Regions from separate parts of the Homo sapiens genome. Here region 2 is linked to region 1. Evidence: fine-mapped expression QTL. Tissue or cell type: whole blood. Region 1 holds a variant in brackets; the other region holds the start of a gene. All regions are shown on one strand. Distances are from middle to middle. Region 1 overlaps LIG3 (DNA ligase 3). Region 2 holds the start of LIG3 (DNA ligase 3).

Region 1 (10,953 bases):
GGACCTGGTTGGCCATGGCCTCTGGACTGGCCGCCATCACTGAGACAGAGGCTGTGCTTTGGGGACTACAGGTATTTCTGTCTCCCCAGAAAGAAGGGTTGCAGCTTGCTCAGGGGAGCAGGATTAGGCCTTATAATCTCTGAATGCCTTCTTGTGGAAAATGGCTTGCATGCCTCTAGGTCATACCCACTCTGGGCTGGGAGGATCACATGGCTCAAACATCAGCTGTTTAAGTGGCTTCTTATAATCTCATTACCAAGAGAAGGGATTTAAGCCTTGTTCCAGGTTGGGAACAGCCCAAAGTAGCATCTTTTCTCCTCTAGGACCCCAGCAAAATACCCAGCTGGTTGAAGGTCAACAAGATCTACTATCCTGACTTCATCGTCCCAGACCCAAAGGTATCAACCCAGTGGCTTGGGGGCCTCCAGCTCATAGAATTAGCTTGCAGGTTCTCTAGTGCCATAGAGAATCCATCTCACCTCGCTGAAAGTCCACCCAGGGATAGGGGTCTGGATTTCCAGCTGAGTGATAGGCACAGGGACAACCAGACAACTCTGAGGAATTTTGAATAGAATTCTTTCTGCAATACAATTGCTTTAAAAAAAGAGAGAGAAGAAGAGAGTACCTATCCCCTCAGCACAAAGGGTGTGTTCTAGAAGTAATCTGGCCCAATCCCTTCTTGTACCGACCAAGAAAGAGATCTAGAGAACAAACAGGACTTCCCTAAGGTTATTCAGCAACAGCAGCAGCAGAACTAGGACCCAAGTTTCCCAGCTGTTAGCCAAAGCTTTTTTGGTTTTTGTTTTGTTTTGTTTTTGAGACGGAGTTTCACTCTTGTTGCCCAGGCTGGAGTGCAATAGCGGGATCTCAGCTCACCACAACCTCCGCCTCCCGGGTTCAAGTGATTCTCCTGCTTCAGCCTCCCAGGTAGCTGGGATTACAGGCATGTGCCACCGTGGCCAGCTAATTTTGTATTTTTAGTAGAGATGTGGTTTCTCCATGTTGGTCAGGCTGGTCTTGAACTCTTGACCTCAGGTGACCTGCCCGCCTCAGTCTCCCAGGGTGCTGGGATTACAGGCGTGAGCCACTGCACCCAGCCGCCTTTTTGGTTTTAATTGTTCTGTATTGCTTCTAGCTGGTTGGGAGATACTTTTTTTTTTTTTTTTTTTTTTTTTGAGACAGGGTCTCACTCTGTTGTCCAGGCTGGAGTGCAGTGGCATGATCTCATCTCACTGCAGCCTCCGCCTCCTGGGTTCAAGCAGTTCTCTCACCTCAGTCTCCCAAGTAGCTGGGATTACAGGGGTGCCACCACCCCCAGCTAATTTTTGCATTTTTAGTAGAGATAGGGTTTTACCATGTTGGCCAGGCTGGTCTCAAACTCCTGACCTCAGGTGATCCACCTGCCTTGGCCTCCCAAAGTGCTGGGATTACAGATGCAAGCCACCGCGCCTGGCCAATACTTGCTTCTCCCTTTTTTTGAGACAGTCTCGTTCTGGAGAGCAGTGGCATGATCTCAGCTCACTGCAACCTCTGCCTCCTGGGTTCAAGCGATTCTCATACCTCAGCCTTCTGAGTAGCTGGGACTACAGGCGTGCACCACCGTGCCTGGCTAATTTTTGTTATTTTTTGTAGAGACGGGGTTGCGTCATGTTGGCCAGGCTGGTCTCAAACTCCTGACCTCAAGTAATCTGCCCACCTCAGCCTTCCTAAGTGCTGGGATTACAGGCTTGAGCCACCACGCCCGGCCACTGATACTATCTTCTTAACCAGTGATGACCTGCTGGCTTACTCCTGACAGAAAGCTGCCGTGTGGGAGATCACAGGGGCTGAATTCTCCAAATCGGAGGCTCATACAGCTGACGGGATCTCCATCCGATTCCCTCGCTGCACCCGAATCCGAGATGATAAGGACTGGAAATCTGCCACTAACCTTCCCCAACTCAAGGTAGCAGCTCTTAGGCTGTATATGTATTCTCCACCCCACTGTCCAGGCCTTGGAGCCTTGGGCATCTAGACCATTCACATGTCCTCTGTCTTCTCCTTTCCCCCATTCTCCTGAGGCAGAGCAAGGAGGGCAATTAGAGAGGGAGACAAACTGCTGCTGGGCCAGGGGCACAGCACTAGACCTCCTTCTCCCTCCATCTCTGAGTAGAGAACCTTGCATTTGCAAGGCCCCACTGAGCAGCCTTTAGTCTGGGGAATAAGAGTTTGCTCCTGTTGCCCCAGCAAAGCCTGCTTTGCTGTACAGAGAACAATGATTTGTACCCTGATTACTCAGGCTATAGGGCCATACTTTGGAATGGTGCCAAGGGAGCCAACTCCTTTTCCTTGCTCTTTATCTTTCTCACATCTTTGTTCCCATATGCGCCTAAAATACACCACACACACCACCTCTGAGGCCAGACTGGGAAGGCAATGAAACCCTCTGACATTGTCCCTCCCCGCCTCAGGAACTGTACCAGTTGTCCAAGGAGAAGGCAGACTTCACTGTAGTGGCTGGAGATGAGGGGAGCTCCACTACAGGGGGTAGCAGTGAAGAGAATAAGGGTCCCTCAGGGTCTGCTGTGTCCCGCAAGGCCCCCAGCAAGCCCTCAGCCAGTACCAAGAAAGCAGAAGGGAAGCTGAGTAACTCCAACAGCAAAGATGGTAAGGATAGGGAGGGGGCTGGTATGGTGAAGAGGGCGGTGTGAGGGGCAGAGATCCAAGGGCAGGGACCCAGTCTCACATTCCAGCCCTGAGATCTCATGATTATCTGTGTCCACTGCAGTGGACACAGACTACATTCCTGGTGTGTGTCCAGCCATGGGCCAGAGACCCTTCTGCTGGGCACCCTGTATCTGCTCAGCAAACCTGAATGGAGCAGTACCCTGGGGACAGCCAGTCTGACCAGGGAATAAGCTACCTTTGAGTAAAGGGCTTAGCTGATAACTCTTCACTCCCCTCTCACCTATGCTCATAGCAGAGAAAGCCCCTGGTCCTTCCCATTACTGCCCCTGACTTCAGGGAGCATTATCAGCAATCCCTACCCTCTTAGTTCTTTTGTATCATATGTTTTTTAGAGACAGGGTCTCACTCTGTCATCCAGGCTGGAGTGCAGTGGCACGACCATAGCTCACTGCAGCCTCGAACTCCTGAGTTGAATTGATCCTCCCGAGTAGCTGGGACTATAGGTGTGCACCACCACACCCAGCTTCCTCTCTGTCCTGCAGGCAACATGCAGACTGCAAAGCCTTCCGCTATGAAGGTGGGGGAGAAGCTGGCCACAAAGTCTTCTCCAGTGAAAGTAGGGGAGAAGCGGAAAGCTGCTGATGAGACGCTGTGCCAAACAAAGGTGAGGGTAAAAACAGCAACACACCACGTGGGCCAGTTTAGCCCAGGTTGTGTTCCCAACCTTCTGTACAAGAAGTTTGAAAGAGGATGAGCAAAGGTGTTTGGGGAACATCGGCTAAACCTCTTCCCTGCCTGCAGCCACTCCTCTGTCGTGGGCAGGGTCAGCAATGCTGCTGCTCACCCTATGTCCTCTTGTTGCCTTGCAGAGGCGGCCAGCCAGTGAGCAGAGAGGAAGAACTGTGCCAGCAGGCAGGAGATAGAACAGCCCGGCCTAGCCAGGAGAGACTGCAGGGACTCACTCAGCTGCTGGCCCCAAGTCAAAATTTACATTAAAGGGAAAAGACCAGTCTGGGTGTGGGAATGCAGCATTGAGTTTGTGGTCAGGGTGGAAGCAGGTCCAGCAAGCAGCGAGTCGGGGAGAGGGCACTGGCTTGGTGACTCTCCTCCCACCTGAGGAGCCTTTTCCCTGTTACATTTTCTTGTCAGTCTTGGGTTTGGCAACATCTCCTGAGCAATTCTTTTTTTTTTTGAGATAAGTCTCGCTCTGTTGCCTAGGCTGGAGTGAAGTGGTGCAATCACAGCGCACTGCAACCTCCGCTCACTGCAACCTCCGCCTCCCAGGTTCAAGCGATTCTCCGGCTTCAGCCTCCCGAGTAGCTGGGAGTATAGGCATGTGCCACCATGCCCGGCTAATTTTTGTATTTTTAGTAGAGACGGGATTTCACCATGTTGGTCAGGCTGGTCCCAAAGTCCTGACCTCAAGTGATCCGCCTGCCTTGGTCTCCCAAAGTGCTGGGATTACAGGCCTGAGCCACCATACCCGGCCTCTTTTGAGCACTTTCTGATGCCAAGAACTAGGTTTAGTACTGGCTCAACTCTGGGGGAGCTGATGCCTCAAAGGACAGATAGAGAAGTAAACATATGATTGACACCCATGTCATTGCGCCCCCACGCTCCCCACCGCCATCCAGGAGTAAGCATAGAAGTCTCACAGCACAAGGCCTGAACTCGGTCCCCAACAGACCTGTAGAAACCTTTCCCCTCTCTCTTCCCAGCCTGAAGTCCTTGAACCCATTGAGAGTAGTAAGCAGGACTCCTGACCCCTCAGTCTAGCAGGTTGTACAGAGTAGACTGCTTGGTCTCAGGGGACATCACTGAGTCTGGGGGCACTGAGTCAGAGCCAGCTCCGCCTGCCCACCATGACTGGGTGGCTCTTATACACATGTACTCTTCCCATCTCCAGGTCCCAGATGTCGAGGCCTGTCCACTCTCCTTTTCCCCTAGGCAGGGATGGAGGGGCGTGTCAGTCCTGTATAATTTGGAGTGACTGGAGGGGTGGGGGTATTGATGCATGGTATTCCAGTAAACTTCTCTGCTTGTGTCCTAACTCTAGGCTCCCTCATTCTGTCCCGTGCTCATTTGGGTGAAGACCCATCTGTACCCAGTGTAGGTCTGACCCCACCCTGACCCCTCTGCATTTGCAGGTATTGCTGGACATCTTCACTGGGGTGCGGCTTTACTTGCCACCCTCCACACCAGACTTCAGCCGTCTCAGACGCTACTTTGTGGCATTCGACGGGGACCTGGTACAGGAATTTGATATGACTTCAGCCACGCACGTGCTGGGTAGCAGGGACAAGAACCCTGCGGCCCAGCAGGTCTCCCCAGAGTGGATTTGGGCATGTATCCGGAAACGGAGACTGGTAGCTCCCTGCTAGGTTTGCTGTCTTCCCTCTCCCTCAGGCCATACTCTCCTTTACCATACTACTGGACTGGACTCAGGCTGGAGGCAGATAGACACAGTATAGGGGGAATGGGCTTGCTTCTCCCAAACCCACCAGTTCTCCACTGTCTCTTCTGGACCAGGAATTAGTTGCTGTGGGTGCCACAGCTGAAGTCAGTTTGTCTTGCTGGTTTAAATAGATCTTTCAGAGCTGGGTGCTGGGTTTGCCATCTTTTTGTTTTCTTTGAAAAGCAGCTTAGTTACCCTTTTTATAAATAAAATATCTTGCAGTTATCTTTGTCCTTTCCCCACCTACACCCCCAATAATTTCCCTAGAGATTAAGGAGTAAAGGCTGGGCTATGGCAGCTCTGTCCACAAAGCCTTCTCTCCCATCCTTGCCTGTTCCTTTGTACTTCCAGGCTCATTTTAAAGTTGTATTTAAAGGACTGCCCTCGGAAATGCTTCTGTTTAGCGGAACTTGTATTCAGCCTGACACGCTTTGCCAGGAACAAACCTCATGTGAAAGAAAACAAAATGAATTTTTTTACTTTCTTCTCTGTGTTCTCCTATTACATGGTGAGGATCCCCAGTTTGAAGGGAGGGGACTAGGGTCAGGTAGGAAAATGGGGCCTTTATGAAGAAAGGGGAGGTTATTTGGGCCACTCCTCTGGAGGGATAGAGGGCTCCAGGAAGATCTGCATCCCCAAAACCTGGAAACAAGACTGTTCTTTAAGAATAAAAATCCACATGGGGCTTGAGGCCAAGAACAGCCCTTGTTGCCACCAACATGGAGACTTTGTACCATATCCCATTCTTAGTGCTCGAGTGTTCCAACCTGAAGTTGAAGAAGCCACCCTGGCTGCACATGCCATCAGCCATGACTGTGTATGCTCTGGTGGTGGTGTCTTACTTCCTCATGACTGGAGGAATAATTATATGATATTGTTGAACCCCCAAGTATTGGCTGATGAACGTGGGCATCAGAGGCCAGTAGCTTTCTTGGCCTACAAAGTAAATGGACAGTATATTATGGAAGGATTTGCATCCAGCTTCCTGTTTACAATGGGAGGTTTAGGTTTCATAATGCTGGACCAGTC[G/A]AATGCACCAAATATCCCAAAACTCAATCGATTTTTTTTCTTCTATTCATTGGATTCGTCTGTGTCCTACTGAGTTTTTTCATGGCTGGAGTATTCATGTGAATGAAACTGCCGGGCTATCTGATGGGTTAGAGCGCCTTTAAGAAGAAATCAGTGGATACTGGATTTGCTCCTGTCAATGAAGTTCTAAAGGCTGTACCAATCCTCCAATATGAAATGTGGGAAAGAATGAAGAGCAGCAGTAAAAGAAATACCTAGCGAAAAAAACAGGAAGCATATTGAAGCTCGGACTAGAATTTCTTCTTGGTATCAGAGAGACAAGTTTATCACAGTATTTTTTTTTTTCCTGCTGACCTATTGATAATACCAACAATGTTGAGTGGCATTTTCTTCTTAGTTTTTAATTTCTTAAAGAAAATATACTCCATATCTGCAGGGAAAAAAATAAAAATCCACACCTGAGAACAGATCCATACAACCTGCTTACAAAGAACAGCTCCTGTGCTACCTGAGGCTGATTTATTTGAAGAACAAAAGGAAGAGAGACAATTTAGTGTAGACAAGTGCTATTCAATAGAACTTTTTGCAGCAGTGGAAATATCCATAAATCTGCAGTATCCAACCAAACTAGCCACAGACAGCTGCTGAGCAATTGAAATGAAGCTGGCACAACTAAGGAACTGAAGTTCTTATTTTAATTCAACTTCAAATGGTCACATGTCACTAGTGACTACCACACTGGACAGTGCAGGTGTAGACGGAGTTCAGATCAGACTCCTGAAACTTAATGGCTCTAACCTTAGGCAAGTTACGTTAACATCTAAGCCTCAATCCCTCCAAGTAGAATGGGTGCACCTAAATCATAGGGTTGTCCTGTTGTCCTGAGCAACATTATGTAAAGCACTTAGCCCAGAGCCTAGCACATAGTTATCTAGAGTTGGGAACGTCACTCCTGGTGTGCATGTCCAGACCCTACCCGGGAGAAGGGCCTAACCTATGACTTTAGAACCCTCAGTTGCAGGTGTGCATGTTCCAGCCAACACTCCACTCTGAGTGCAGGCTCATCAGGACACCATATGGTTGTAAACTGGCTGCCATGTCCCAATCCTTCCAGCTCTTGAGGGTCAGTTCTCACCTTATGAACAAATTAACAGGCTCTGGACCTATAAGATCAAGGACCACTGCGCCCCCTGGCCACCCCACCGCCCCCCCCCAACTTTGATCTGATTGACTTTGGCTTCCACCTACTGTTTAAAATGTGTATGTTGGGGGAGTAGGGACAGCACGGGGGAGGGGTTTACTTTCCTGACTCTAGCCCAGGACATTTGGTGTTTTTGAATAGGCACCATTCAGCCTTGCTTCAGTATTAGGAATAAGATACTTTTTATTCCATCCTCTATGGAGACAAAAAGCTGCTCCTCCTTTGAGTACTGACCTACATAGATTTCCATTTCTCTCTTCAGCCTCAGGCCAAACAAACAACCGGACAGGGCAGCAGAACAAGGCTGTCTCCTCAGGATCCTGCCAAAGGCACTGTCCTCTCCAACCTGGACCCAGCCCCACTTGCCCTTATTGGTTGCTTACACCCAGAGTGCACACTCACAGGAAAGGGCCTCTGCTGGCTGCAGGTGATCATCTTGTCCCTTCTCTGCCTTAGTGTGTGTTATTGCCATTTCAATGTCAGTGGTTTTTTATGTATTTTCTTCCAGTCTTTGCTGCTGAGATCTGACTGTATATACTATTTTGTATCCTTTCATGTATTTCTTTCATGTATTTCAATGCAGCCCTCAACATCATCATCATAAATCTCTCCAGCAGAATGCTGGAGGCCTCCCTCTTCTGAACCTCTACATGCTGCTGGCTGGCATCAAGCAGAGGTCATCACTGGGTGCTGAACAGGTCAGCTCCCTAGGGCAATGTGAGCAAAGTGTTGTGGCTCATCCTCGATCCTTTATGCCCTTTTGGCAAGATTCCTTTCTCTTCTCAGTCACAGCAGATGGACACATAATCTTGTTCTCCCAGGGGCTGCATTCTCAGTAGTCTTTTCCCTGCTCCTTGGGCGCCTGGTCAGGGAGGTTTGTACAAGCCTGCGCACACACAGCAGTCTGTCACGAGGCTGGGCCAACCTTTTTTTTTTTTTTAAACAGACTCTTGCTCTGTCATTCAGGCTGGAGTGCAGTGGTGCAATCTCAGCTCACTGCAACCTCTGCTTCCCGGGTTCACAAGCAATTCTCATGCCTCAGCCTCCCAAGTGGCTAAGACTTAACAAACAGGCACACACCATCACTCGCAGCTAAGTTTTTGTATTTTTAGTAGAGACCACGTTTCGCCATGTTGTCCAGACTGGTCTCAAACTCCTGGCCTCGAGTCATCCACGCACCTCAGCCTCCCAAAGTGCTGGGATTACAGGCGTGAGCCATGGCGCCCAGCCTGGGCCAACCTTTTCTGAGCCATAGTCCAGCTGTACTACAGCTGTATCCAAAAGGTACCATGTATCTCCCAGGGTAACCTGAAGACCTAACTGGGCATACTAACTGTCCTCAGATTTCAGTTCTTTAAGGCCCATCTCTTCTAGATCAGTGTAAATATCTGAACTCACTTGGTGCTTCAACCCAATTGGTCTTGGGATTCATCCTTTACCTACCCAGCTCTCATTCTCTTCTAGGTTGTTCCATGGCCTCTTCCATATATTACATTTGTGGTCTTGAGCAAGTTAGTTAGTTACAACAACACTGAGCATCTTGACCAAGGTCACTTGGCCCAACCACAGGCTAATCCCAGGCCATGTGCACATCCCAGGATTAGCTTGTGGTTTATCAGTTGTCAATTTTTTTTTTTTTTTAATACAGGGTCTCACTCTGTCACCCTGGCTGGAGTGCGGTGGCGATCAGAGCTCACTGCAGCTTCAATCTCCTGGCTCAAGTGATCCTCCCACCTCAGCCTTCCAAGTAGTTGGGACTACCCACATGCACCACCATGCACGGCTAATTTTTTGGTTTTTTTGGGTTTTTTGTTTGTGTTTTTTTTTGTTTTGTTTTTTGAGACAGAGTCTCGCTCTTTCGCCCAGGCCGGACTGCAGTGGCGCAATCTTGGCTCACTGCAAGCTCCGCCTCCCGGGTTCACACCATTCTCCTGCCTCAGCCTCCCGAGTAGCTGGGACTACAGGCACCCGCCACCACGCCTGGCTAATTTTTTGTATTTTTAGTAGAGACGGGGTTTCACCGTGTTAGCCAGGGTGGTCTCGATCTCCTGACCTCGTGATCTGCCCGCCTCAGCCTCCCAAAGTGCTGGGATTACAGGCGTGAGCCACCGCACCCGGCCCTTGTTTGTTTTTTTAAGTAGAGACAAGGTCTCACTACATTGCCCAGGTTGGTCTCAAACTCCTGAGCTCAAGCAGTCTTCCCACCTTGGCCTCCTAAAGTGTGGAAATTATAGCATGAACCACTGTCAGGCTCTTTTGTCAGTCCTATCAACCTCTAACATCCTCGCACCAGACAGGACAGGTGTCTGTATTGAAACTTTATTACAAAATTATAAAGCAGAGCTCTGTAACAAAATAATACACATTTGGGTTTGCTTTAACCTCCAAGTAAGTCTGAGAAAATCTTAATAAAAGCCACTTGAAGTAACAATTCACATCCAAGAGATTTCCACAAATTTATACAATGTATATTGAGCACTAGTTCCTGTACAGCTTATTCTTATTAGTTTGGATCCAACTATTCCAATGTATTATGAACCAGTCAGCTATCTGTCTTTTGAAACAAGTCTTAACTGAAATCTCAGAGTAATCAGCAAAAGCTACGGAATAATTCTAAGAATTAGATGTTTCCATATCATTAAAACCAAGGATCCATGAGGGGCAGAAGGGAGGATTCAAAGATTTAAAAAAAATCAAATTTTAGACCTTGGTTAAATATTAACTGGAATGGGATCTTGGAACTCCCAACTTTAATTTGGTGTAATAAAAATGATGCAAAAAAAAAAAAAATCAGGGTTGTTTGACACCTTTTTTCCTAAAGGGAAACCTTCACCAAAAGGGGATAAAAGATTTAAAGGCAAAATGAGTAAACAACCTCAGTTTTAATTCTTACTGAGGTTACTAACCAGCTATCAGTATATTATTTTCGATTTGTGTCTAGGAGGGAAACTGAAGAGGAGGTAAGGCTTCAGCAGAGAAAGCAGGTTGTAAGTAGAGAGCCAGCTTCTGCCCTTAAGTTACTGCTAGATCTTAGCTGAATTGCACATACATAGACCTGTTTTACAGAGGAACTGAGTAGCTGAATGAATGATCCTTTGCTAATTGGTAGGCATTGTAAACTATAGTATTTACTGCCCATGACAAAAGTGGAAAGGGATGTCTTCATGAGCAAATCTGATTCCCCCAACTCCTGCAAAGGCTGTGGTTCAGAATCAAATCATCCAGGACTTTGTATAACATTGAGGTAAGTGGCCCAGTGTTCAGTTGACTAGTTTATGCAGTTATTTCATTCCTCCAAAGGGGTTTAGTGGTTGGTGATGGAAGAAAGCATAAATATGTCTGTACCAATGTAATAAGTCCCTTTAGAGGTTTCCCTCTGCCATCCAGAGTCATGATTGGTTCTAGTCTCAGATTTTTCAGCTGCATGGGAGGGGTAAGGGGTGGGAGGTGTCTGCCAAGGCGTTTAGGGTTTGCATAGTTCATCCATTGGTAATGGGAAAACACTCTGCTTTCCTGATCATGTGTTTTGTGCTTGGCCACGCTTCTGCAGCAAACTCTTAAGTCCTCCAGCTCCTCTAGGGGTGTAAAGACTGTGAGGGCT
Region 2 (10,953 bases), 25 kb before region 1:
TGTCCCAGAACCTCTCTGTCATGGATCAGCTACTCCCAAAGGCAAGTATGACTTCTCTCAGCTCTGCCCTTTCTCAACCTGACAGCTGTAGCACAACATATTCAAAGGAGAGGCCAAGAAACCCCCCTGGTTAAGAACCAACCTCCGCAGCCTTTATTGAGAATGAAGAACGATGAGCTGATTTGAATTATTATATCTTTCTACAGCTATTCCCTTTTAAATATTTATCCTGGCAAATACCAGCACCGTTTTTTACAACTTATTTGAATTGTGTGACTATTAAGCAAACCAACCCATAAAATCAGCTCTTGCTGCTGGGGTTTATGTGATTCATAGACCACAGCTTATTAAAAAAGGGAACCCACTGAGAACAGACTAGCCTCACAAGTGCCCCTCACTATCTCTAGGACAGTGTCAAGCCTTTTCCCAATTCTTGCCTGTGGCTCCCAAACTACCACAGTTAGTAGCATAGAACATGAACAGAATCTACCCATTTCCTTATGGCTCTTTTTCTTTGTAACAATTCTGATGAGTCTTAACTGGAAGTCAGGGTTAGAACAGACTTAAAGGAGACAGTCAAAACTCTTAAGAGGCTCACAAACAGGATAGATGCCGTAGAGGATTTACAGTCAACATCTGTGGAAAGAACTTAATTGAGGACTTTGAATAGCTAGGAACAAGCATGAGATATCCTGATTATTCACCACCAGCTTAGTTCTTGTTTGGATCATAAAACTGCTTTGAGACTCCATAAAAGCTCTTCACCAAAAATGCCCATGCACACAAATGTTTATATAAAATTTCAGGAAATTCAAGGACACCCCTGAGCCCATCCACAGTTCCCCTAGGGGTCTATAAGCCTCAGTTATTTCTTACTATCACTGTTACCACCCAAGCTGCCTTCATCTCTCCCCTAGATTATTAACATAGCTACCTGACTCATCTCCCAACTTCTCTACACAACAACCAGAGTGATAGTGATCCTGTTAAAGCTTAAGTTAGATCACATGACTTCTCGGCTCAATACAATCCACTAGCTTCCCTTCTCACCTGGAATAAAAGCCAATGTCTTTGCAATGTCTTACAAGACCCTACAGGATCTGTCTCCTTGCTCTTCTCAACCTTAACTCCAGCTGCTCTAGCCACATGGATCTCCTTGCTATTGTCCTAAATGACAGTCACATTTTTGGCCTCCAAGCCTTTATCTAATGCTCCATCTACCCTCAATCTGCATGAGGCTGACTCATTTCTTCAAATCTTTTCTCAGTTGTTACTTGTCAGTGAGGCCTTTCTGACCTCTATTTAAAACTGCCACCCTGCCCCTACCCCGCATGTCCCACCCTCCTCTGCTTTCTTCTTCTCCATGGCACCCACTGACTTCTTACACCTTATACATTTTACTTCCCTGTTTGTTATTGATCTCCCACACTAGTTTGCTCCATGAGGGCTGGATTTTTGTCTGCTTTGTTTCGCTACTGTATTACACTCCTGGAATTGTGCCTGATGCAGAGTAGGCACTCAATAAATACTTGACTGACCAATCAATGACTGAGTGATTACACTCTGTAGTGGTATGAATGTATCCAGGCTGGGTGGTGCAGGAGAATGTACATTTATTGAAATGCCTCTAAGTGCCAAGCAGTTTGCAAGCTGACATCAGTCATCTCATTTAATTGGCACCTACAATCCCAAGAGTTATTTTTATCCTCATTTCACCACCAACCCAAAAATGAAATACTTAAGCATAAATCTAATACAATATGTACAAGAGGTGTATGAGGAAAACTACAAAACTCTAATAAAAGAAATCAAAGACAAACTAATCAATAAATATTCCATCTTCATGGATACAAATACTCAATATTGTCAAGATGTCAGTTCTTTCCAATGTAATCTGTATATTCAATACAATCCCAATCAAAATTCCAGTAACTTAGTTTGTGGATATTGGCTTTAGAAACTGATTCTAAAGTTTATGTGAAAAAGCAAAAGATTCAGAATAGCCAACACAATATTGGAGGAAGAGAACAAAGTTGGAGGACTGACATTATCTAAGTTGAGACTTGCTATAAAGCTACAGGAATCAAGACAGTGTGGTACTGGTCAAAGAACACACAAATAGACCAATGGACCAGAATACACAGCCCACAGACAGATTCACATAAATATAGTCAATGATCTTTGACAAATGACCAAAAGCAATACAAATGAGAAAACAGTCTTTTCAGAAATGGTGTTAGATCAACAAGGGATCCATATGGCAAAAATTGAATCTAGATAGATCTTACACCCTTCACAGAAATAAACTCAAAATTGATCCGGGACCTAAATGTAAAACTATCCCCATTTCACGGTGAAAACTGAGACCCGGAAAGTTAAGAAAATAGATGAAAGTTACAGACAGCTGGTAGTGGAACATAATTCAAACCTGTCTGTGCAAATCCAAAGCCCTGCTCTTCCTACCACACTTTGCCTCATTCTCCTTGGTAGAGTAGTTCCCACTTTTCTTTTTTTTTTTTGAGACAGAGTCTCGCTCTGTCTCCCAGGCTGGAGTGCAGTGGCGCGATCTCGGCTCATTGCAACCTCTGCCTCCCAGGTACAAGCGATTCTTCTGCCTCAGCCTCCTGAGTAGCTAGGATTACAGGTGCACGCCACCACCTGGCTGATTTTTGTATTTTTAGTAGAGATGGGCTTTCACCATGTTGGTCAGACTGGTCTCAAACTCCTGACCTTGTGATCCGCCCATCTCGGCCTCCCAAAGTGCTGGGATTACAGGCGTGAGCCACCACACCCAGCCAGTTCCCACTTTTCTAAAGAAGTGCAACTGCCGGCTTTCGTACCTAGTTCCATTTCTTGTGTACCTAGTTCTATTTCACAGCAGGGGACCTGAATCAGAGAGAATCAGGGGGTTCAGGGAGCTCTCATCAAGCAAAAATCATTTACAGCCTAAGTCTTTGCAAGTTTATATCAAATATTGTTATGATATAATAAACATCCTTCTAAGGGATCTTATCACTTCCAGAGTTTTATTCATTCATTCCATTCACTCATGAGTTTCATTCATTATTCACAGATATTTGTTGAGTATCTACTATGTGCCCAGCACTGTTCTAGGCACTGAGCATATAGCACAGATGCCACCCTCTACATGTAGGTTTGAAATCTAAGGCAGTGTACTCTAACAGAAATGTAGTGTAAGCCAAACGTGCAGTTTTATATTTTCTAGTCACCACATTTTCAAAAAAGTAAAAATAAACAGGTGAGATGAACTTTACTATATTTTATTTGACATAACATATCCAAAAAAATCATTTCAATAAATAATTAACATAAAGATAGGATAGTCGTGAGTTGTTTAACAACAGGATACCTTCTGAGAAATGCATCGTAAAGTGATTTTGTGATGGGAATATCATAGTGTACTTACAAAACCTAAATGATATGGCTGACTATATACCTAAGCTATATGGTATAGGCTATTGCTCCTAGGCTATAAACCCATACAGCATGTACTATACTGAATACTGTAGGAAACTATAACACAATGGTAAGTATTTGTGTCTCTAAACATAGGCAAAGCACAGCACACACACACACACACACACACACACACACACACACACACACACACACAAAGGTATAAAAGAAAATGGTCCAAGGTGGGTGGATCACCTGAGGTTGGGAGTTTGAGACCAGCCTGACCAACATGGAGAAACCCCGTCTCTACTAACAATATAAAAAAATTATCCAGGCGTGGTGGTGGGCACCTGTCATCCCAGCTACTTGTGAGGCTGAGGCAGGAGGATCACTTGAACCTGGGAGGCAGAGGATGCAGTGGACTGAGATTGTGCCATTGCACTCCAGCCTGGGTGACAAGAGCGAAACTCCATCTCAAAAAAATAAATTAATAAAACCACACACATAAACAGCACAGTTGTATAAAAATATTTTTCTTTTTTTAAATAAATATTTTTATTTCTTATAAATATGTTGCCTAGGCTGGTTTTGAACTCCTTCTGCCTCAGCCTCCCAAAGTGCTAGGATTAGAGATGTGAGCCACTGTGCCCAGCCAATATTTTTGCTTTATATCCTTATTCTATAAGCTTTTTCCTATTAAAAAAAATTCCTTTTACTTTTAAAACTTTTTTGTTAACAAGACAGAAACACACACATTAGCCTAGTAAGCCTACAGAGGGTCAGGATCATCAATATCACCATCCTCCACCTCTACATCTTGTCCTACTGGAAGGCCTTCAGGGGCAATGTCACACGTGGAGCTGTCATCTCCTCTGATAACAATGCCTTCTTCTGGAATACCTCCTAAAGGACCTACCTGATGCTGTTTTACAGTTAGCTTTTTTTTTTTCAATAAGTAGTAGTATACTCTAAAATAACAATAAGGCTGGGCATAGTGTTTCATGCCTGTCATCTCAGCACTTTGGGAGGCCGAGGCAGGCGGATCACTTGAGGTCAAGAGTTTGAGACCAGCCTGGCCAACATCGTGAAACCCCGTCTCTACTAAAAATACAAAAATTAGCCAGGCGTGGTGGCGGGTGCCTGTAATTCCAGCTACTCAGGAGGCTGAGGGAGGAGAATTGCTTGAACCTAGGAGGCAGAGGTTGCAGTGAGCCAAAATCCTGCCACTGCACTCCAGCCTGGGCGACAAGAACAAAACTCTGTCGCAAAAAAAAAAAAAAAAAATTATTAGCCCATTGTGGTGGCAAGGGCCTGTAATCCCAGCTACTTGGGAGGCTGAGGCAGGAGAATCACTTGAACCTGGGAGGCAGAGGTTGCAGTGAGCCAAGATCGTGGCACTGCACTCCAGCCTGGGCGACACAGCGAGACTCTGTCTCAAAAATAACTAAATTAATTAATTTAATTTAATGACAATAAAAGGTATAGTATACTAAATATATAAACCAGCAACATCGTCCTTTATTATCATTATAAAGTTTTATATACTGTACATAATAGTGTGTGCTATGCTTTTATACAACTGGCAATGGAGTAGGTTCGTTTCCACCAGCATCTCCACAAACACATGAGTAATGTGCTGTCACTATATGATAGGGATTTTTCAGCTCCATTATAATCTTATGGGACCACCCTCATATATTTGGTCCATTGTTGGCCTAAATGTCATTATGTGGTACATATTATTAATGAGATATTTTACTTTTTTTAGTATGAATTTTTTGGTGTGTATTTTCTTCACTTATAGCACATCTCAATTCCATGCAACATTCAAGTGCTCAATAGTCACGTGTGGCTAGTGATTACAGCATTGGAAAAAGACAGATACGGTTGAGGAAACTTAAAAAAATGTAGCAAATGTAGTTGTAGAGACGTGCTCAAGATCACTCAATTATCATAGCTAGGACGTGAGTCTCCAGCGACCTTCCAATTGCCTGGTTGAACCAAAGCCCTGGTTCATTCTGCTGCGCATTAAAAGCAGGCTTTACTCCCCTCCAAACAGTAGAATCGCAGTTAAACTTAGTCAAACAAACTTAATGTATCCAATACAAAACTCATCTTTCTAACCCTAACACCTCCTCTTCCTCTCTATTTTCTATTTCAGTTGATGGTACCATTATGTTTCTGCTCACTCAAATTATTATTATTTTATCCATAAACGAGCACTTTATCTAGAAGATCATTTAAATTCTAAATGATCTTCAAAAACGCACTTTACTCTCCACCCTAACTAGCTGAATCATCTCCCACATGGGTCACTATGAGAGCCTTCTGATTTGTTCCCTTGCCTCAGTCTCTCCCCACCCAGCTTCAGCAGTATTCCCTAAGACTCTTCATGGCTCTCCGTCCTCTACAGAGTAAAGACGACACTCTTCATCACACAGCACAGAATTCTCTCGGGAACCTGTTCTTTGCTTACCTAACAAGGCCCAGTTGTTTGCTCTTCCTAGACTCTGAAGAGGTCACTTACCCTCAGGCTGCTACATTTGTAAAAATCGCCATCCCAACTCTCAAAGAGCTGGCTTCAGATTTGAGATAATACACTTTGAATGATATACAATCAAGGAGTTTCTCCTCCATCACTCCTTTACATTTTATATCTATCTGCTGTTTAGTGCCTCGTCTCAATTCCATGAAAGCTACTGAATACAAACTATTTACTAGGGAGTCTGCGGGACACAAACAGAGGGATTATATTTAAAAAATAGATTGACGCGATCTTTGCCTTCCCCGACCTCATTACAATATAGTTTCTCCACCAATATCTTTAAAAACAGATCCTCTCTAACAGTATGAGAAAATCAAGGGGAGCCTCGGAAGTTCAGGCCAGGCTGCGTTCCGAGGAGCCGCCACGTCCCCCCACCTCCGCTTCCCGGGCCGCGATTGCAGGTTGAAAACTACTCCCAAACATCACAGGGCAGGCAGAATGCAACTACGACCCACGTGGCAGACGGGGGCGGGGACCGGTCGCGTGGCCGCGGCCTTGGCTCTTGCGCCTGCGCGCTGCCTCCCGCTCTAGGACCCGGATTTAAAGAGACAGGCGCTCCAACCGTCGTGGGCTGCCCGCGGCCTGTAATGAGCAAGTTCCGAGGCCTACGGTGAGCGCCGGAGCCGGAGAGGCAGGTGAGGGGCTACGCGGCGCGGCACGGCGCGGCGGGGCCCGGCGTGGGGAAGGCAGCGGGCCCGGGGCGAGGAGCTCGGCGCGGCCGGGGAGCCAGCCCCCCGGCTCCTCCCCCGCCCGCCTGCGGAGCCCCGGGGCACACCCTCCGTGACGTGGCGGCCCTCCCGGGAGCCCAGGGGGAGGCTCGCGGCTCCCCGGGACCCCCACGGGGCCGCGTGAGGCGGGGAGGCCGGCGCCCGGGCTGTGTTCCCTGTGGAACCCACGGGGCCTTCTCGTACCCTGGCCCGGCGTGCGTCCTCCTGCGCTGAACCGGGAGCGCTCGGGTGGGACTCAGGGAGCCTTGATCACTTCCCGCCTGCGTCCCGGACCCGGTGGAGGAGCGCTCCTTTCTGCCTCGCCGGGGGTCGCGGCCTACGCCGCCGACCCCACTGTCCCCGCCACTCTCCGACAGCGGCGCGGGAAGCCCTTCGAGAAAAGCGGCGGCGGCCAGGCCTCAGCGATTTCCTTCTCGGGCCCCTGGGCTGCGGCAGTTGTGAGGGTGCGGAACGAGGGACAGACGGGTTTCCTCAAAGCTGCATTGTGCCTCCTCGTGGCCCAGCGCCTCCCGAGCCTCCCTCAAGTCCACTCCTTTCATTATTGGGGCCCTAGAGGTTGCTCTGTAAATTGATCTTCTAGGAAAAGTGTTGAAACTCACTTGTTCTGACCTCCTTTTATGGGTCTGCCGTACTTCCACTTACCTCACCTCTGTGGTTCTTAAACTTTGGGAGTTATATAGCCCTTTGTGAATATCACGAAAGTGATAGACCTCCTCCAAAAAACCGTGCATTTTTATCGAATGTACATTTTGTATACATTTTTAGAGAGCTCAGAACAGCCTCCCTCCCCCACAACCAGCGCATTCATGGATTCCTTGTAATTTTCCCAACTACCCTGTGAGGTAGGTATTATTTACCCTGCTTTAGAAATAAGAAAACAGATGCAGATAAATTAAGAGTTTTCTCCGAGGTAACAGTCAGTAAACTGTACAGTCAGACTTGCACTCCCATCCCTTATTCCAGGTCCACCAGCTTTCCTTCACATCATGTTGCACTACAGTAAGCAAAGCCTGCTTTTTATTATAACGTGACAGCAATTTTGCTTCACAGCGTGTGCAGACTGAACATAATTCCAGTATACTTAAAACTAGGACTATAAAATGCTTTAGAAAACATGAATATAAGAAGATGCTGATATAATCTTTTTCCATTTGGATTGATTTATGAGTTCCTGTGAGTCTTGCTGCCCAGTGACTTCAGCATTCTCTGATTCAAGTTGCTGAATGATAAACAGGTTAATTGCACATCGGAAGCCTCTTCTTGAAAGATAACGACGTCACCGATCATAATAGGAGCTGACGTTAATGAGAGCTCTTGCTGTGTGCCCAACTGTTTTAAGGGTTTTACTCTTAGAACAGCTCTTTAAGTTAGGCCCCATAATTAGCCACATTTTACAGATAAGGAAGCTCAGGAACAGAGGTAAGAAACCCATCAAGGTTATACAGCTGGTAAGTGGCTGAGTTAGGATTTGAACTCAGGCAGTCTGATTCCAGGCTCTGCTTAGTTGTCTCTCAATATAGGGATTCTAACTCAATTCCAAATCTATATAGTGGCTTGATTTCTGAGGATGGCATATGTGTTAAACTTCACAATAAAAACTTCATGAACATAATGTAATTTTTACTGGTGATTAAAACGAAACTTCAGGGCCAGGCACGGTGGCTCATGTCTGTAATCCCAGCACTTTGGGAGGCCGAGGCGGGCGAATCACCTGAGGTCGGGAGTTGGAGACTAGCCTGACCAACAAGAAGAAACCCCGTCTCCATTAAAAATACAAAAAAGTTAGCCGGGCGTGGTGGCGCATGCCTGTAATCCCAGCTACTAGGGAGGCTGAGGCAGGAGAATCGCTTGAACCCGAGAGGAGGAGGTTGCGGTGAGCCAAGATCGCGCCAATGTACTCCAGCCTGGGCAATTAAAGTGAAACTCCGCCTCAAAAAAAAAAAAAAAGAAAGTTCAGGATCTTGTAATACTTAAAGGTCATCATCCATTATGAGTATCATATGTTGCTGATGGCCTAAAAAGAGCTTTTATGTTATTTGGATTTTCTTCATTGTGATGTACTAGATGTACATGTGTGCATTAGATAATTGAACATCCTGCTGCGAGCTGGCTTTTCCTGTATCAGAACTCTTTCATGCTGTAGAGTAGACTATGAATGTAATACTTTGGAAAGTGTTTGATTAGTCATCATGGACTATATAAGACGCTGGCCTTTGGAAAATTGGAAGCCTATCTCCTTGTTTATATCTTTTTTTTTTTTTTTTGGCCTCCTACTCTTTCGTACAGCTATATGTCTTTGGCTTTCAAGATCTTCTTTCCACAAACCCTCCGTGCACTCAGCCGAAAAGAACTGTGCCTATTCCGAAAACATCACTGGCGTGATGTAAGACAATTCAGCCAGTGGTCAGAAACAGATCTGCTTCATGGACATCCCCTCTTCCTGAGAAGAAAGCCTGTTCTATCATTCCAGGGAAGCCATCTAAGATCACGTGCCACCTACCTTGTTTTCTTGCCAGGGTTGCATGTGGGACTCTGCAGTGGCCCCTGTGAGATGGCTGAGCAACGGTTCTGTGTGGACTATGCCAAGCGTGGCACAGCTGGCTGCAAAAAATGCAAGGAAAAGATTGTGAAGGGCGTATGCCGAATTGGCAAAGTGGTGCCCAATCCCTTCTCAGAGTCTGGGGGTGATATGAAAGAGTGGTACCACATTAAATGCATGTTTGAGAAACTAGAGCGGGCCCGGGCCACCACAAAAAAAATCGAGGACCTCACAGAGCTGGAAGGCTGGGAAGAGCTGGAAGATAATGAGAAGGAACAGATAACCCAGCACATTGCAGGTAAGGTAGAGAACACTGCTTTCTCATCTTACTGGTGCTGAGAGAAAAAGGGATAAGGAGTTCAACTGCTTTCTTTCTCTTTTTTTTAACTTTGCTCTTTTAGAGATGGGGTCTCACTCTGTTGCCTAGGCCAGTGTTTAATGTTGCATTCGTAGCTCACTGCAGCTTTGCACTGCTGGACTCAGGTCATCCTGACTCAGCCTCCCAAGTAGTTGGGATTACAGGCGCATGCCACCATGCCCAGCCTTTAACGTTTTATTTGGAAATAATTTTAAACTCACTGAAGTGTTGGAAGATTAAAAATAGTACAAAGAACATTCATATTCCTTTTACCCATATTTACCTATTAACATTTTACTCTATTTGCTTTATCATATTTGTTCATGTGCTGTCTCTCTCTACATACATACACACGTGTGCGTGCACTCACTTTAAACCATTTGAGAATAAGTTGCATACATCATGGCCCTTTAAAATTCTTCAGTGTATATACCTTAAGAATAGGATATATGACCCTTATGCGACTATAATATAGCTATCATCTTCAGAAAATTTGTCCTTGATGTAATACTTAAATCTACCATCTGTATACTATTTTGTCAATGGATTGAGTCATACCTTCAGTAGCCTTTTCCTGCAGTATAGGATCCCAGTCTAGGATCATATCAGGTGTTGCATTTAGTTGTCATGTTTCTTTGGCCTCCTTTAATCTGAAATATTTCCATAGTCTCTCTTTTATGACATTGATATTTTGGAAGAATAGAGTACTGATTACTATCCTCTTTTACTTTTTTTCTTGTAGCATATAATTCATTACTGTACTTAACTAATTTGATACTTAATTGTCCCATATTTGGCCAATTAGGAACCCCTTTACACTGTCCTCTGTGTCCTGTATACCTTCATTAACTTTTTTTAATGTACTTCTTTACTCTTGAGCATAGCAAGATGCTTTTAGTCTTATCCCGTATGTATCCTTCCCCAGCCCTGAAATTGGTAATTTCTCTGGGGATTCCTGTTAGTGGGAAATGCCCCTGTTAAAGAGTAAAACCTGGATACTATGTGTCCACATTGTCATGGGGTATCTGTTTCTTCTTTTTTTTTTTTTTGAGAGTCTCACTCTGACCCAGGCTGGAGTGTAGTGGCACTATCCTGTTAGTGGGAAATGGTATTAAAGAGTAAAACCCGGATACTATGTGAACACATTGTCATGGGGTATCTGTTTCTTCTTTTTTTTTTTTTTGAGACAGAGTCTCACTCTGTGACCCAGGCTGGAGTGCAGTGGCACTGTCTTAGCTCACTGCAACCTCTGCCTTCCAGGTTCAAGCAATTGTCCTGTCTCAGCCTCCCAAGTAGCTGGGACTACAGGCACTTGACACCACACCCAGCTAATTTTTGTGTTTTTAGTAGAGACAGGGTTTCACCA

The links.
Region 2: it holds the start of LIG3, and the variant in region 1 is fine-mapped to the expression of LIG3 in whole blood (INTERVAL, PIP above 0.99).

Annotation. Positions count from the first base shown.
Region 1 is chr17:34,999,459-35,010,411 of GRCh38, forward strand. LIG3 (DNA ligase 3) reads left to right here. Exons shown (of 20, transcript NM_013975.4): 16 at 324-398; 17 at 1,799-1,945; 18 at 2,451-2,646; 19 at 3,210-3,331; 20 at 4,815-10,285. The coding sequence ends at 5,048. It overlaps RFFL (ring finger and FYVE like domain containing E3 ubiquitin protein ligase), which reads right to left. Exons shown (of 7, transcript NM_001017368.2): 7 at 6,532-10,953. RAD51L3-RFFL (RAD51L3-RFFL readthrough) reads right to left here. Exons shown (of 7, transcript NR_037714.1): 7 at 9,654-10,953. It also overlaps the pseudogene OSTCP7. Among named protein-coding and RNA genes, the nearest start is that of LIG3, 24 kb to the left of the region's middle. The variant G/A (reference allele first, on the strand shown) is at 6,152.
Region 2 is chr17:34,974,026-34,984,978 of GRCh38, forward strand. It overlaps LIG3 (DNA ligase 3), which reads left to right and starts at 6,487. Exons shown (of 20, transcript NM_013975.4): 1 at 6,487-6,597; 2 at 8,977-9,527. The coding sequence starts at 8,981. RefSeq lists a silencer at 6,512-6,941.